Regions from separate parts of the Homo sapiens genome. Here region 2 is linked to region 1. A link means that fine-mapping ties the variant in region 1 to the expression of a gene that starts in the linked region. Tissue or cell type: nucleus accumbens. Region 1 holds a variant in brackets; the other region holds the start of a gene. All regions are shown on one strand. Distances are between the middles of the regions.

Region 1 (8,256 bases):
CTGTTCAGAAAACCCCACAGCGCCTCTCTCCTATCCCTGGAGCCCAGCCGTGCGGGCAGACAGCTCACCTGCCCAGCTCCTCCCCCATCTCATAATGGTCCTCCACGTCCTCCTGCCTGAACGTGGACATGGCGGCCGGTCCGCCTTCCAGCAGCTTCCACTCCAGGGAAAGTGCAGTCACCGCAGCCTGGAGATAGGACCTCAGGAGTCCCCTAATGGCAACCCTGGAGAAGACAGGGAAAGACAGAAGTGAGGAACTGAGACACCACCCTTTTCTCCTAGATTAATGGACAGACCTGTCCAGCAAACACAAGCCTCCCACCTCTCCACTCTGAAGCTCCAAACTCGACAAAAAGAGGTGCTGTGTTTACTGGGCTGGGTCCTGTCATGTCACCTCTTAGAGCCCCATAACCACTCAAAAGTTTGGTAACAGCCCCACTGGGCCACCTTCACCCCGCAAAACTCTCTCCAGACACATAATTCTGATTTCCCCGACGCTGCCTGCGTCTTTTTTTGCCTCTCACTCCTAGACTTCTCTCAACCTGCTCAGCCAAAATCCCCCACCATTCCTGCACGTTCTCCTCAACCTCAAATCCCAGGGCTACCTTACTCCCTGGCCAATGTCTTAACGAAGTTCTCAAGTCTACTTCTTTTGTTGTTGGTGTTGTTGTTTTTTGAGAAGGAGTCTCGCTCTGTCGCCCTGGCTGGAGTGCAGTGGTGCAATCATGGCTCACTGCAGCCTGGAACTCCAAGGCTCAAGCGATCGTCCCAGGCCTCCCAAAGTGCTGCCATTCCGATCAAAATTCCCAAGTTACTACCTTAACCCCTCCTGGTCCTTGCCCTCGGCAGGTCTCTTAAGACCCTCATCGATGGAACACCCCCGCCCACCCCCAACCATCTCTGACTCCCTCCAATTCTGAATTTTCCAAGAACCGGACGACGCCTTCCACGCTCCTGAAAGCCCACTTTGCCTCCCTCCCCCGCTGACCTCCACTGTCCTCGCAAGATTAACCTCTTCCTCCACGCTCCATGTATCAAAGTCCCCCAACCGCCGTCTCCCCTACCCCCCAAAACGGGCCGCCAAAAAGGGCCCCATCTGAGTCTCCTCCACCGTCCTCTGCCCCTTCTCGCCCGCAATCTCCGCACAAGCCCCTAGGCAGACCCCAGTGGCTCCCTTTGCAGAACCTCCCCCCGCCCCCAAGGCCTTGCCCATCCCTAAGGCTCCGCTCCAGCATCCCTGGGGCCGCTACGCCCCTCGCACGCCCGGCCGAGCCCTTTCCCCGGCCCGGTCACCCAGATGGGTCCCCAAACCTACCAGCTCCTCAGATTCTCTCCCTCCCTCGTCCTCCGCGGGCCCCCGAAGCGCCGCTCTGGCCCCACCCAGCCCTCCAGCCTCGGCCCGAGCCCGCTCTTTACCCTCCGCAGCCCGGAGAATACGGCCGGCGCCGCCGCGCTGGCCACCGCCGCCGCCTCCAGAAGCCCCGCGCCCCTGCCGCCGCGACGCGCCTGCGCCGACGTCACCGCACCCGCCAGTGCCCACCCCCGGGAAACGAACCCCGCCGCCTATTGGCCGGTGCGCCCGCCGCTCGTGCCGCACCTCGACGTCCCGCCCCCAGCTGCCTTTTCGGCACCCACACCCGGATGCAGCCTCACCACTGGCTGAACACTCGCCATCCCTGATTTCATTGGCTGCAGTCGACGCTGGTCAAGCGGACGGAAAAAAGGCCGACTTCCGGTCCCTTCATCGCCCCGCCCGCCTCTCCTCTGACCCAGGTGCTGAAGCTGCGAGAAGTGAGGCTGAAGCCCTGCATCCCGCTTCCTGCCTTCCTGGAGCACCGGTTGGGCGAATGGATGGCTCACCTGTGGCCGAGCGCGCCTGGCAGCTCCTGGAGTGGACCCTGGGACTGCTTTAGTCCCTATGTGGCAGTTTCCTCCACTGAAAACTGTTACCCACATTCTAAATACTTAAAATGCAAATGAGGTCAATCTGGGGTTGTCATACACAGGGTCCCTCTTCGTCTCAAAATAGAGGGTAACAGCAAGCATTTTATTGAGACATAGTATGTGCCAACTGACAACACTGGGAGGTATCAGGTTTGTTTTTTTTTTAATTTTATTTTTTGAGACAGGGTCTCACTCTGTCACCCAGGCAGGAGTGCAGCGGCGGTATCCAGCTCACTGCAACCTCCACCTCCCGGGTTCAAACGATTCTCGTGCCTCAGCCTCCCAAGTAGCTGGGATTACAGGTGCCCATCACCACGCCCGGCTAATTTTTGTATTTTTAGTAGAGACGGGGTTTCACCATGTTGCCCAGGCTGGTCTCGAACTCCTAAGCTCAGGTGATCCGGCACCTCAGCTTTCCAAAGTGCTGAGATTACAGGCGTGAGCCATTGCGCCCGGCCTAAATTCATTTTTTATTATTATTTTGAGACGGAGTCTCGCTCTGTCACCCAGGCTGGAGTACACTGGCACAATCTCGGCTCACTGCAAGCTCCACCTCCCAGGTTCACGCCATTCTCCTGCCTCAGCCTCCCGAATAGCTGGGACTACAGGCGCCCGTCACCACGCCCAGCTAATTTTTTGTATTTATTAGTAGAGACAGGGTTTCACCGTGTTAGCCAGGATGGTCTCGATCTCCTGACCTCCTGATCCGCCCGCCTCGGCCTCCCAAAGTGCAGGAATTACAGGCATGAGCCACCTTGCCCAGCCTTTTTTTTTTTTTTTTTTTTTTTTTGAGACAGTCTCCTTCTATCGTCCAGGCTGGAACGCAGTGGTGAGATCTGGGCTCACTGCAATCTCTGCCTCCTGGGTTCAAGCGATTCTCCTGCCTCAGCCTCCCGAGTAGCTGGGACTACAGGTGCACGCCACCACTCCCAGCTGATTTTTGTATTTTTAGTAGACGCAGGGTTTCACCATGTTGGCCAGGATGGTCTCAATATCTGTGATCCGCCGGCCTCGGCCTCTCAAAGTGCTGCGATTACAGACGTGAGCCACAAGCCGGCCTTTATATTTTTTATTTACATTTTCAACGTACAATGGGTTGGCCAGGTGTGGTGGCTCACGCCCGTAATCCCAACAGCTTGGGCAGCCAAGGCGGGCAGGTCACTTGAAGTAGGAGTTCAAGACCAGCCTGCTCAACATGGTGAAACCCTGTCTCTACTAAAAATACAAAAGTTAGCCAGGCCTGGTGGCACATGCCTGTAATCCCAGCTACTCGGGAGGCTAGCGCAGGAGAATTGCTTGAACCCAGGAGGTGGAGGTTGCAGCGAGCCGAGATCATGCCACTATACTACAGCCTGGGTGACGGAGGGAGACTCCATCTCAAAGAAAAAAAAGTGGCAGGGCATGGTGGCTAACGCCTGTAATTCCAGCATTTTGGGAGGCCACGGTGGGCAGATCACGAAGTCAGGACATCAAGACCATCCTGGCTAACA[C/T]GGTGAAACCCTGTCTCTACTAATAAATACAAAAAATTAGCCGGGCATGGTGGCGGGTGCCTGTAGTCCCGGCTACTCGGGAGGCTGAGGCAGGAGAATGGCGTGAACCCGGGAGGCGGAGCTTGCAGTGAGCCAAGATTGAGCCACTGCACTCCAGCCTGGGTGACAGAGCAAAGACTGTCTCAAAAAAAAAAAAAAATTCAGCTTCCACATACCATCTTAACGTTTGCACTACTAAAAAAGAATAGGACCCGGTATGGTGGCTCACACCTGTAACCCCAGCACTTTGGGAGGCTGAGGCGGGCTGATCTCTTACGGTCGAGCTTGAGACCAGCCTGGCCAACATGGTGAAACCCCATCTCACCTAAATATACAAAAATTACACAGACCTGGTGATAGGCGCCTGTAATTCCAGCTACTCGGGAGGCTGAAGCACAAGAATTGCTTGAGCACTTGAATCCGGAGGCAGAGGCTATAGTGAGCCAAGATCACAACACTGCACTCCATCCTGGGCGATAGAGTGAGATTCTCGAAACACAGTAATCCGTTACCCTGACTGCTGGAAACAGCGTCAGTTACAGCCCCAATTCAAATGCGACAGCCAAACCAAACCTCAGGCATACCTACATGTGGGCAAAACCTCAGCTGAGGCTTGGCCTTGACAATGCAGGGCCAGAGCTGCCCCCGCCTTTGCCGAGAACCCCACAGCCCTACTTCACAGTCCCCACCTGCCTTCCTGAGGACAGAGTAAAAGGCGGAAAATGATCATGTTAACCTTATCAGCACTGACAAGATTAGGCCTCCTCACATCTTAGGCACTATTTAGAAAAACAAATAGTTTTCTAAGCTATTGGCGCTCACACCTGAAATCCCAGCACTTTGGGAGGCTGAGGCAGAAGGATCGCTTGAGCCCGGGAAGGAGACCAGCCTGAGCAACATAGTGAGACCCCATTACTACAAAAAAAGTAAAAATTAGGTCAGCACAGTGGCTCACGCCTATAATTCCCAGCACTTTGGGAGGCCGAGGCGGGTGGATCACGAGGTCAGGAGATCGAGACTATCCTGGCTAACACGGTGAAACCCTGTCTCTACTAATAAATACAAAAAATTAGCCGGGCATGGTGGCGGGCGCCTGTAGTCCCGGCTACTCGGGAGGCTGAGGCAGGAGAATGGCGTGAACCCGGGAGGCGGAGCTTGCAGTGAGCCAAGATTGAGCCACTGCACTCCAGCCTGGGTGACAGAGCAAAGACTGTCTCAAAAAAAAAAAAAAATTCAGCTTCCACATACCATCTTAACGTTTGCACTACTAAAAAAGAATAGGACCCGGTATGGTGGCTCACACCTGTAACCCCAGCACTTTGGGAGGCTGAGGCGGGCTGATCTCTTACGGTCGAGCTTGAGACCAGCCTGGCCAACATGGTGAAACCCCATCTCACCTAAATATACAAAAATTACACAGACCTGGTGATAGGCGCCTGTAATTCCAGCTACTCGGGAGGCTGAAGCACAAGAATTGCTTGAGCACTTGAATCCGGAGGCAGAGGCTATAGTGAGCCAAGATCACAACACTGCACTCCATCCTGGGCGATAGAGTGAGATTCTCGAAACACAGTAATCCGTTACCCTGACTGCTGGAAACAGCGTCAGTTACAGCCCCAATTCAAATGCGACAGCCAAACCAAACCTCAGGCATACCTACATGTGGGCAAAACCTCAGCTGAGGCTTGGCCTTGACAATGCAGGGCCAGAGCTGCCCCCGCCTTTGCCGAGAACCCCACAGCCCTACTTCACAGTCCCCACCTGCCTTCCTGAGGACAGAGTAAAAGGCGGAAAATGATCATGTTAACCTTATCAGCACTGACAAGATTAGGCCTCCTCACATCTTAGGCACTATTTAGAAAAACAAATAGTTTTCTAAGCTATTGGCGCTCACACCTGAAATCCCAGCACTTTGGGAGGCTGAGGCAGAAGGATCGCTTGAGCCCGGGAAGGAGACCAGCCTGAGCAACATAGTGAGACCCCATTACTACAAAAAAAGTAAAAATTAGGTCAGCACAGTGGCTCACGCCTATAATTCCCAGCACTTTGGGAGGCCGAGGCGGGCAGATCACTTGAGGTCAGGAGTTCGAGACCAACCAGGCCAAGCAAAATTCTGTCTCAAAATAAATAAAAATTAGCTGGGCATGGTGGCACATGCCTGGAGTCCCAGCTACCTGGCAGGCTGAGGCAGGAGAGTCCAGGAGGTGGAGGATGCAGTGAGCTGACTGCACCACTATACTCATCTGGGAGACAGCAAGACTCTGCCTCTAAAAAAGTGTTTACAAGGCCGGGCACAGTGGTACAATCCCAACGCTTTGGGAGGCCAAGGCGGGTGGATCACAAGGTCGAGTGATCAAGATCATCCAGGCCAACATGGTGAAACCTCATCTCTACTAAAAATATAAAAATTGGCTGGGCGTGGTAGCACACGCATGTAATCCCAGCTACCCAGGAGCCCGAGGCAGAATTGCTTGAACCCGGGAGGTGGAGGTTGCAGTGAGCAGAGATGGTGCCATTCCACTCCAGCCTAGCAAACGGTGAGACTCCATCTCAAAAAAAAAAAAAAAAAAAATGGGTTTCTAATAAACTAGTCAGGACTGGGGTGACCACAGAAAATCCTGATGGCAGATAGAACTTGTGAGCTCGTCAGCAATTCGGAAAGTTGCTGAAACCTGCGAAGTTCAATCCAGAGCCCCTCGCTCCACAGGGCCATCCAAATGCGTTCAAAGTGACATCTCGTAATTCCTTGCCGCACTGATCCTACTTCAAATGCTCAGCAGACCCGCGCAGCTGGCAGCTGCTTCTCTGAATGACACAGGGGTAGGGCATTCCCACCATTCCAGAACGTTCCACCTAACACTGAGGCAGCCCCAGGCTGCACCTAACTAGGGCCCGGGTCCCCTTCTAGGCTCCAGGGAGCCCAGTACTGGGCAGCCCCGCTCCCCTGCGAAGACACCGTGAAAAATGCAGAACAGAGTCACCACCTTATCAAATTTATTATTCCAATGGCACTAGTACAGCTGGAGGTGCTCATGGTGACACCGCACAGGACTTCCTGCCTGCTAGAAATCATCTACCCGCGTGTTCCTTTCCCCTTTCTGGGGCAAAAGCCACTGCGGGCCATGTACCCAAATAAACCTCTTAATGCGTTTGTTAAAATTAGTTTGGACATCTGAGTTTCCCTCTGAAGAAATGGAAAAAGTGTTGGGTGTCCCATCCCGCCTCCCCCTCCCCGACCGGCCCATTAAGTCCCTACTAAGAGGGCGTGTCTGCTGCCTCCGGACTCTGGAAATAAATATTGAAAGAAACGGCATCAAGTGTTATGGTTGAGTGATGGCACGCAGCGGGCCCCAGAAACCTCTCAGGGGAGCGTCGCTGTGTCGGGACAGTCTCCAGGTGTCGTCTGAGAATTCGAGGACGTGGTGCTGTGGGTGCTGCGAGTCCCCGGGGCGGCAGGCGCTGCAGGAAGGGCCGCCTACAATTTGTCCAGGAAGTTGTCCAGGGCAGGGATGCCTTCTTTCAGGCCCTTGCGCTTGCGGGTCTCCGCCACCACCTGGCTGGGGCGGCTGCTGTTGTCGAAGGGGTCTCCGGGCAGGATCTGCCAGTGGTCAAACACACACTGGGGGAACGCCTGGCCGCCCGTGTTGGACCTCAGGTCAGCGGTGAAGCCTGCAGAGGGAAGCGAGAGGCTCACTGGGCCATCGAGAAGGTGGCAGGGCAGAAGGAAAGTCCTGTCAGGAGCTCAGGCTAGTTCCTCAGCCTGAGTCACCCTGCAGACCAGACACTCGGCCTGGTGCCCAGCACTTCACGAAGGGCCTAGCAGGCCACTCATGGGCCTCATGCCGCTGCTCGTTTGGGACAACCCTGTGCTACAGCTCGGCTGCTCTACCGGCCCAGGGCGTAGGCCTTCAGAGCTCCAGGCCCAGAGCCCTTCTCACACTGGGGATAGGAGAGCCCCTCCCCTGGGAATTCAGTGATTTAGGGGGTCCACAAGCTGTCAGAAACTGGACCACCTGCTCCATCCATCACCTGCTCCCATCAGGACGCCTCCTTTAACACCTTGCTAAGCTTAACTGGGCTTCTGTCCCCCAAACCAGCCTGCCAGGCTCTGCAGGCCACACCGGGCAGGCACTCACCAAAGGACTCGTTGACGGGCAGATAGGCCTTGACCACAAACATGGGGGTGCCGGCCACCTGGGACTCCTCGAACACGTGGCCCCGCTTCCTGTTCAAAACCCCGTAGATGCCACCGACCACCTGCTCTGGACACTGCCAGAAGGGAAAGAAAACCTGTCAGTGGCCGCTGGGCAGGACGGTGGCAGGGTCAGCGGTGGGCGGGTAGACCTCACCTGGATCTCCACAAGGTAGATGGGCTCCATGAGGCGTGGCTGGGCGGTCAGCACACTGGCATAGAGGCAGCGCCGTGCTGTGGGGATGATCTGGCCCCCTCCGCGGTGGATGGCGTCGGCGTGCAGGGTGACGTCGTGGACGTCGAAGCGCACACCCCGCATGTTCTCCTCACACAGTGCGCCCTGGGGGAGGGGGAGAGCCACCGTCAAGGGCCGGACACACCTCGGCTGCTTGCCCTCCACCTGCCAAGTCCTGCAGGTCTCCACCAGGGGGACCTGGGGCCTTGCCCGCCTTGGCCCCATTAGGGTCTCTGTCTCGGGAGGCAGGACCATGAGGTCCCTCTAGAGCCTGGAAACGGGTGTGGTCTGCACATGCTGAGCCGTGCCTCACCTCCTTGGTGGCCCACTGGAAGCCGGCCACCACACTGTCCTTG
Region 2 (8,000 bases), 210 kb after region 1:
AGCGTGGTGGCTCACACCTGTAACCCCAGCACTTTGGGAGGCTGAGGCGGGCAGATCACCTGAGGTCAGGAGTTCAAGACCAGCCTGGCCAACATGGAGAAACCCCGTCTCTACTAAAAATACAAAATTAGCTGGGTGTGATGGCGCATGCCTGTAATCCCAGTTACTAGGGAGGCTGAGGCAGGAGAATCGCTTGAACCTGGGAGGCTGAGCGGAGATCACGCCATTGCACTCCAGCCTGGGCAACAAGAACGAAACTCGGTCTCAAAAACAACAACAACAACAAAAAACAAACTGCAACTTCTAGACCCTGACAGCTCTCCTCCCCTTAGCCCCATCTCGAGGGAAATTCTGCCTCTGGCCTCAGCCGGGACAGCTCTGAGCCATGGGACTCAGAGATCTCCACACACTGGGCCAAGAACTCAGGGCTAGAATCTTATAGAACCAGGAAAAGGGGACTCTCCCCCTAAAAATGCAAACACGGTTTGTGGGGCCCCAAGCTCTTTTGTGGGGGCGGGGCCAGGGTGTTACCTGGGGAAGCCTGAGCGCACATGGAGCCCGTCCACGTTCTGGCTGACCAGGAAGCGGAGGAGGCCCACGCGCTCCAGCTGCACCAGCGCCATGTGGGTCTGCGTGGGCCGCGCGCTCTCAAAGGTGGTGTCGAACTTGGGGGCCAGACCTCGCTCCTCCATGGTCCAGACTCCGTGGGGACCCCTGAAGGTGGCAGGCCGGGAGAGATGGACGGGGAGAGGGGAACAGAAAAAGAGACAGAGGGAGAATCAGAGAGGTATAGAGAGAAAGTTGGAGAGAGAGAAAATCAGGAGACAGAGAGAGACAGGGAGACAGAGAGAGGGAATCAGAAACAGAAATAGAGGGTGAGTTGCAAGAACAGGGAGAGGGGGATAGAACAAGACACAGACAGAGAGATAAAGAGTTAAAGACAAAGCAAGTCAGAGACAGAATTGGAGAGAGACAGAGAGAGGGAGAGGCAGAGAGAGAGAGATGAATTCACACGAAGGCAAAAATGACTTATTCTATTCAACCAACACTGCTGCTGCAATGAGCCCGACGATGCTCACATGGGCCCAAGCCCTGCCCTCCAGAAGCCCTTGATCTTGGGGGAGACAGGTGGACACAGATCCTCTGGCCCCAAGAGTCAAGCCTGGATCAGAGGAGGTACCTGGGCCTGGGGAAGCCCCGTGGAGGTGGGGGCCCTGGGGCACGTGGAAGGGCTTCCTGGAGGAGGCTAAGCAGTTTCTTGAAGGGTGAGAGGGAAGATCAGACAGAAGGGGTAAACAAAGGCCTGGGTGCTGGGAAGAGCCCATGAGTTTAGGAGAAAATGCAAGTGTTTTGGGGGCTGCAGCAGGAGCAGGAGGGGCTGAAGTTGGAGAGGTGATTCAGGGCTGGGGCAGGAAGGGCTTCAGCTTCCAGCACAAGGTATTCAGAACTCTACACTGCCTGGCAATGGGGAGCCACAGCAGGTTATGGAAGAGGAGAAGGAGGAGAAATTCACGCCTTGGCTTTTTTTTTTTTTTTTTTTTTTTTTTTTTGAGATGGAGTCTGGCTCTGTTGCCCAGGCTGGAGTACAATGGCATGATCCTGGCTGACTGCAACCTCTGCCTCCCGGGTTCAAGCGATTCTCCCACCTCGGCCTTCCAAGTAGCTGCGATTACAGGTGCCTGCCACCACACCTGGCTACGCTTGCAAATATGAAAGACTACATTTCCCAGCAACCCTTGCAGCCAGGTGTGATCAGGTGACCGTGTTCTGGCCAATGAGGTGAGTGGAATGCTGGTTGTGACAAGGGACACATCTTTTTGTTTTGTTTTTAGACGGAGCCTCACTCTGTCGCCCAGGCTGGAGTGCAGTGGTGCAATCTCGGCTCACTGCCTCCACCTCCCAGGTTCAAGCAATTCTCCTGCCTCAGCCTCCCGAGTAGCTGGGACTACAGATGTGTGCCACCACAACTGGCTAATTTTTGTATTTTTAGTAGAGACAGGGATTCACCATATTGGCCAGGCTGGTCTGGAATTCTTGACCTTGTGATCCACCATGCCCAGCCAAGGGACACATCTTAAAGGGAGTACCCAGGACACATCCAGGAGGAAAGCAGATGGATGTGTTCTCATTCCCAGATGTGTGTGGCTCGCAGGGAAGCCTCTGGCAGCCTGGTAGGCCTTGCCTCGACTTCCCCTGCACAATCACAGACCTGAAGTCGGGGATGCCAGAGGCAGTGCTGATGCCGGCACCCGTGTGGAACACCACACTGGAAGACTGCCAGACCAGCCTCGCCAGTTCCCACACCTTCCGCTCCAGCTCCTCCGGGGGGTCGAAGATCTGTGGGGGGAGAGAGCAGACGGAGGGGTCAAAACAGTTCCCCCAAGTGGCAAGGCCACGCACGAGCCACAGACTGAGCTGTCCCTGTCTTGCCTGAGGGAGGAAAATGGATTGGAAAAGGCAGCTTGTCCTCATGCCCCTCCTCTTCCTACAACCTTCCATGCCTCCCACCTGCCTTGTCAAAGCCCTAGCCCTTCCCACGGCCCACCAGGCCCTGCACTACCTCCCTTGCCCCCTCCCTGCCCTCTTCTCCTCCCTCTCCCTGCCTCACTCTGCTCCAGCCACACAGGTCTCCTCCTTGTTCCTCTATCACACCAGGCACAGTCCCGCCTCAGGGCCACACCCTTTAATGCTCTTCCCCCAGATACCCACATGGCTCCCTCCCTCACCTCCTGTAACTTGTGGCTTAGATGTCACTTCAGTGACAGTGATGCCTCCCTTGGCCAACTGGTTTCCATGCAACCCCTAGTCAGTCTCCCTTACTAGAAGGAGGGGTTTTTAATCTGTGTTGCTCCTGGCTGTGGCCTTAGTACCTAGAAAGTGCCTGAGCTACAGTAAGTGCTCTATAAATGTTGGTGGAATAAAGTGACTAACAGGCCGGGTATGGTGGCTCACGCCTATAATCCCAGCACTTTGGGAAGCCAAGGTGGGTGGATCACTTGAGATCAAGAGTTCAAGAGCAGACTGGCCAACATGGTGAAACCCCGCCTCTACTAAAAATACAAAAATTAGCCAGGCGTGGTGGCAGGTGCCTGTAGTCTCATCTACTCTACTCAGGAGGCTGAGGCAGGAGAATCGCTTGAACCTAGGAGGCGGAGGTTGCAGTGAGCCGAGATCGCGCCACTGCACTCCAGCCTGGGCGACAGAGAAACTCCATCTCAAAAATATAATAATAATAATAATAAAGTGACTAACAGCAGCAGTGAAGAGTGGGGCTTCTGGACGGGCGCACACCATCAGCGCTCATTAAATGCATGAGTCAGAATGCATGGGCCAGCCTTATGGAATGGGGCCATCTTCACCTCGTTTGCAGAAAGTTTGGAGATGGAGACCCAAAAGGGAAGTGACTTCCCCAAAGTCCCACAGTGCGTGGAGGGGGCAGCCGATCCCTCCACTTCCCCTCTGAGTGGCTGGAGGGATCTTTCTGGCACATTCTGTCCAGTCCCCTCGCCAGGGCAAAACCCTTCCCCATCACCCTCAGGATAAAGTGCCAACTCCCCAGCCTGGCATTTGAGCCCCGTCCTGGCCCGGCTCTGGAAACCTCCCAGGCCTAATCGTTCTCCAGGTGTGTTTATTCCCACCTCCCTTTGCGCCTGTCGTCCCCTCTTCCTGGAACTACATCCCCTCTCTCCCCGATCAGCCCCGACAGGGTGACCACAGAGTTGGGCGTGTTGGCGTCCCCCGGCGCGCAGGGGCGTCACTTCCCGCCCCTTCCTCACTGGGAAGTCCCTCCCATTGTCTAGCCTCAGTGCCCCCTGATATTCCCACAATGCCCCCCTGCCATCCGGCCGCTCCCAGCCCGCGGCCCTGGGGCGCGATGCTCGGGACCCTCAGACGCGCTCACCTCCGGGAGGCCGCACTTGCCCTTGTCCGCGTACGGCGACAGCCCCGCCGCGTAATTCACCGACATCCTCGACTGCCCCACGGGAACAATAAAGTTTCCCTTGTTGAGGCCGCTTCCGCCGGAAGCGGGGCGGGGCGGGGAAGAAGGAGGAACCGCGTTCCAGTCCTGCGCACCCGGCCTCCCACGGCAAGGCGCATGCGCCTCTTGCTGACGCCGCAGGCGACATGTTATCTGCTGTCAGAAGGAAGCCTGCCTCTTTGCATGCAGGTGTTTGCGGGGCTTGGGAAGGGGCTCCCCGATGACCCGGGCGGGAAATTGGGGCGGCCGCCTACGTGAGAGTTCTCCAGTCACCTCTAAAATGCGGGACACAGGCTATCCATGTCCCCACAACCCCTTTTACGGATTAGTAAATTCCGTAAGGACAGAGCCGGACAGCAGGGACCCCAGCCTAAGGGTTTTGAATGCCACGCAGAGTTACCTGAATATCTCATTTGTGTGTGTGTGTGTGTGTGTGTGTGTGTGTGTGACGGAGCCTCGCTCTGTTGCCCAGGCTGGAGTGCAGTGGCGCAATCTCGGTTCACTGCAACCTCCGCCTCTTGGGTTCAAGCGATTCTCCTGCCTCAGCCTCCCTAGTAGCTGGGATTACAGGCGCCCGCCACCACACCCAGCAAATTTTTGTATTTTTTAGTAGAGACGGGGTTTCTCCATGTTGGTCAGGCTGGTCCCGAACTCCTGACCTCAGGTGATCTGACCGCCTCGGCCTCCCAAAGTGCTGGGATTACAGGCGTGAGCCACTGCGTCCGGCCAAGTTATCTGAGTATCATCCAACTGGAGGTTCTGCATTCTGCAGGACAGGTCCTGCTCAAGGTCAATGGGGCTGGTGGCCTGGAGGACTCATTTAAGAATCATGTGTTGAGTACCTACTTTGTACTGGGCACACTGGAGAGCAAAGGTGGTACCATCTATGCCCTGGTGGCTGCGGGTGGACACAAACATGTGACCAGGTAATGGTGACATGGTGTGGTTGGGGTGCAATGGGTGATGCAGAGGGCACAGGGCAGTGAGGGGGCTCACAGGAGGCACCTGACCCAGGCTGGGGGCATCCGGGAGGGCTTCCTGGAGGAGGGGATGTTGCAGCAAAGATCTAAAAAGTGAGTGAGCCGGGCGCAGTGGCTCACACCTGTAATCCCAGCACTTTGGGAGGCCAAGGCAGGTGGATCACCTGAGATTGGGAGTTCGAGACCACCCTGACCAACATGGAGAAACCCCGTCTCTACTAAAAATACAAAATTAGCTGGGTGTGGTGGCCTGTAATCGCAGCTGCTCGGGAGGCTGAGGCAGGAGAATTGCTTGAACCCAGGAGGCGGAGATTGCGGTGAGCCGGAGATCGCGCCATTGCACTCCAGCCTGGGCAACAAGCATGAAACTCCGTCTCAAAAATAAATAAATAAATAAATAAAGAGTGCATGAGTCAGGTAGAGCCGGTTGGGGTGACATGAAGTACAGAAAGAATGTTCCTGGTGGGGGGAACAGCAAGTGCAAAGGCTGAGAAAGAGGAAGAGCATGGCTCCTTCCAGAAACTGAAATCAGTCCAGTGATGATAGGGAAGATCGTGGGTGTCTTCCCGCCAGAGCCAGTTGGCCAACAGGCAGTCCGCTGCCAGCCTGTCTCCTCCCTCGGCTCATCCCCGGCCCCCTGGGGCGGCCGCCTGCTCAGAGCCGATCAGGTGTCAGAGTGGAGCGGCTGGAGCTGCTCGTGGCCCAGCTGGGAGTGGGTAACCGGAGCCGGCAGTGGGCACTGTGGCCGGGAGCTCGGGGCACTGGAGCTGCAGGAGGTAGGGGAGGAAGGAGGTGGGAGAGGCCCAGGACGGAGGATCCCCTTATGGCCCCAGGCCCCTGAGCCCTTGTATGTGGGAGAAAGAAGCCGTGCTGAGTCCTAGCCAGGCTGCGGAGCTACCCAGGTACCCTGACACACACATGCACTCGTTCACCCACGCACTTCCCACTTGCCGGCCTGTGCCCTGCCTAGCTTCCTCCAAGGCAGGTGCTCAACATCCCACCCGGCCATCAGGCCCTTCTTATTTACCATCACCTCTTCCAGCAAGCAGCTTCCTAAATTTAGCAGGCGTTTCTCCCTCCCCCAAGCCCACGGATTGTCTTCTCCCAAGCAGCCTGTGAACTCCTCTGTTGGGTGTCTTATTACCCCCTGCTTTGGGTGTGATTGAATCCTCCAGTCAGAGGTAGAAGAAAAAAGGGTAGGTAGTGAGTGAATGGGCACCGGTGGAGGGGTAGATGAATGGATGGGTGGGTGGATGGATGGGGGGCGAATAGGTGGATTGGTGGTTTGGTAGATGGGTGAATGGGTAGATGTATGGATGGATGGGTGGATGGATGAATGGGTGGGTGATTGGGCAAATGGATGGAGGGATGGATAAGTGGATGGATGGATGGATGGAAGGATCCATGGATGGACTGGTGGGTGGGTGGATGGATGCACTGGTGGGTGGGTGGGTGGATGGATGGATTGGTGGTTGGGTGGGTGGATGGAGGGATGGATAAGTGGATGGATGAGTGGATGGGTGGGTGGGTGGATGGGTGGATGGGTGTGTGATTGGGTGGGCAGATGGGTGGATGGATGGATGCTTGGGCAGATGGATGGATGGGTGGTTGGGTGGATGGATGAAGGGATGGATAAGTGGATGGATGGGTGGATGAGTGGATGGATGAATGGTGGGAGTTGGTAGGTGTTTGGGTGGGTGGATGGATGTGTGGGTGAAATCTGATTAAAGGGTGATGAAGAACCATGAGAACATGAATTGGGTGGGTGGGTTTGTGGGTGGTGGCCAGTGGGTGGTTATACAGTGCTTAGGTGGGAGGATGGATGTCCAGGTGAGTGCATAGGTGGTAAATGCGTGGAAGGGTGGCTTGGAGAATTCACGAGTAGATAGGTGGACAGGTAGAGGCCATGCCAACCCCTACTCCTTGGTAAGAGGCAAATACAGATTCTCCATCACAGAAATCCCTTTCACACATAGGGCCTCACAGTCACACCCCTCAAAAAACACACCCCCTCAAGATAGGCCTGCCTGACCTCCGTGCCTGCCCATGCGGAACGTAGAACAGGCCCAGGTGGACAGAAGTGCACGTGTGCACACGCCCCACACTCAACGTCACACACATGCATGCAGCCATTGCCCCAGACCTCCACCCACTATGGGTGAATTGCTGTCACATGGAGGTTCCCTCTGACTATGTAGCAAACATGCCTCTGTGCTGAGAGCCGTCAGCCCTGGCTTCAGTCCCCAGGGAGCCCCTGACTGTTGAAAAGGACAGAATCAGCCCAGACCCTTCCAGCCCATGGAGCCAGGGGTGAGGCAGAGGCAGAGACCCAGCCAGGGTAGGCGGGAACCCAATTTGGGGAGTTAGATCTCTGCTTGGGAACAAGAGGCAAAGCTGATAAGAGCAAGGGATTTTGGAACTGGGCTTTGAAGGATGAGTAGGAGTTCAGAGAAGAAAAAAGAAACCATTCTAGGCAGAAATAACTGCACAGGTAAAAGTTAGGAGACCAGAAAAGGCTTGATCTGTTTGGACCGCAGGAAATACCAGTGAGATGCATTTATGAAGCCCCTCATGTTTGGCCAGGCTCTGTGTAGGGACCATGCTGAAAACTGACCATGAGTTGGTCAAGAAAGGATCATTTCTGTCACTGTATAGATGAGGGAAGTAAAACAGAGAGGGCAAGTAAACTGCCAAAGGACACACAGCAGGTAGGAGATAGAGCAGGTCTGTGTCTTGCTCTAGGGGCCAGGACTGGTCAGGAAGGAGGAAGCGGTCCTTTTGAGGAGGGCGAGGCAACGGACCCTGCCGCCCACCAGGACTGGTGTCCCTCACCTTACCCCCACCCTTGCCCTCCTCAGGTGGCCTGTGGAGAGGAGAAACACAGGGCACCAACTATGAAGACTCTCAGGGCGCGATTTAAGAAGACAGAGGTGAGTGTGAGGCCCTAGATGCCCGATACACCCCTGCAACTTCAGCCTTCTGTCTCCTGGGGCTTGGCTGAAGATCCACCCTTTCATTCCAGTACCCACCTCTTCTCCTTT

The links. PIP is the estimated chance that this variant, and not a neighbour inherited with it, causes the effect.
Region 2: it holds the start of SIRT6, and the variant in region 1 is fine-mapped to the expression of SIRT6 in nucleus accumbens (GTEx, PIP 0.98).

What each region holds. Positions count from the first base shown.
Region 1 is chr19:3,969,606-3,977,861 of GRCh38, forward strand. It overlaps DAPK3 (death associated protein kinase 3), which reads right to left and starts at 1,494. Exons shown (of 9, transcript NM_001348.3): 1 at 1,316-1,494; 2 at 69-224. The coding sequence starts at 130. It overlaps EEF2 (eukaryotic translation elongation factor 2), which reads right to left. Exons shown (of 15, transcript NM_001961.4): 12 at 8,214-8,256; 13 at 7,823-8,005; 14 at 7,610-7,742; 15 at 6,451-7,142. The coding sequence ends at 6,949. RefSeq lists enhancers at 1-545, 546-1,177, 7,795-8,004 and silencers at 66-360, 1,349-1,478. The variant C/T (reference allele first, on the strand shown) is at 3,435.
Region 2 is chr19:4,178,573-4,186,572 of GRCh38, forward strand. SIRT6 (sirtuin 6) reads right to left here and starts at 3,991. Exons shown (of 8, transcript NM_016539.4): 1 at 3,902-3,991; 2 at 2,210-2,337; 3 at 532-714. The coding sequence starts at 3,967. ANKRD24 (ankyrin repeat domain 24) reads left to right here and starts at 4,117. Exons shown (of 22, transcript NM_001393985.1): 1 at 4,117-4,168; 2 at 7,818-7,889. The coding sequence starts at 7,854. RefSeq lists enhancers at 3,965-4,054, 4,125-4,174, 7,673-7,792.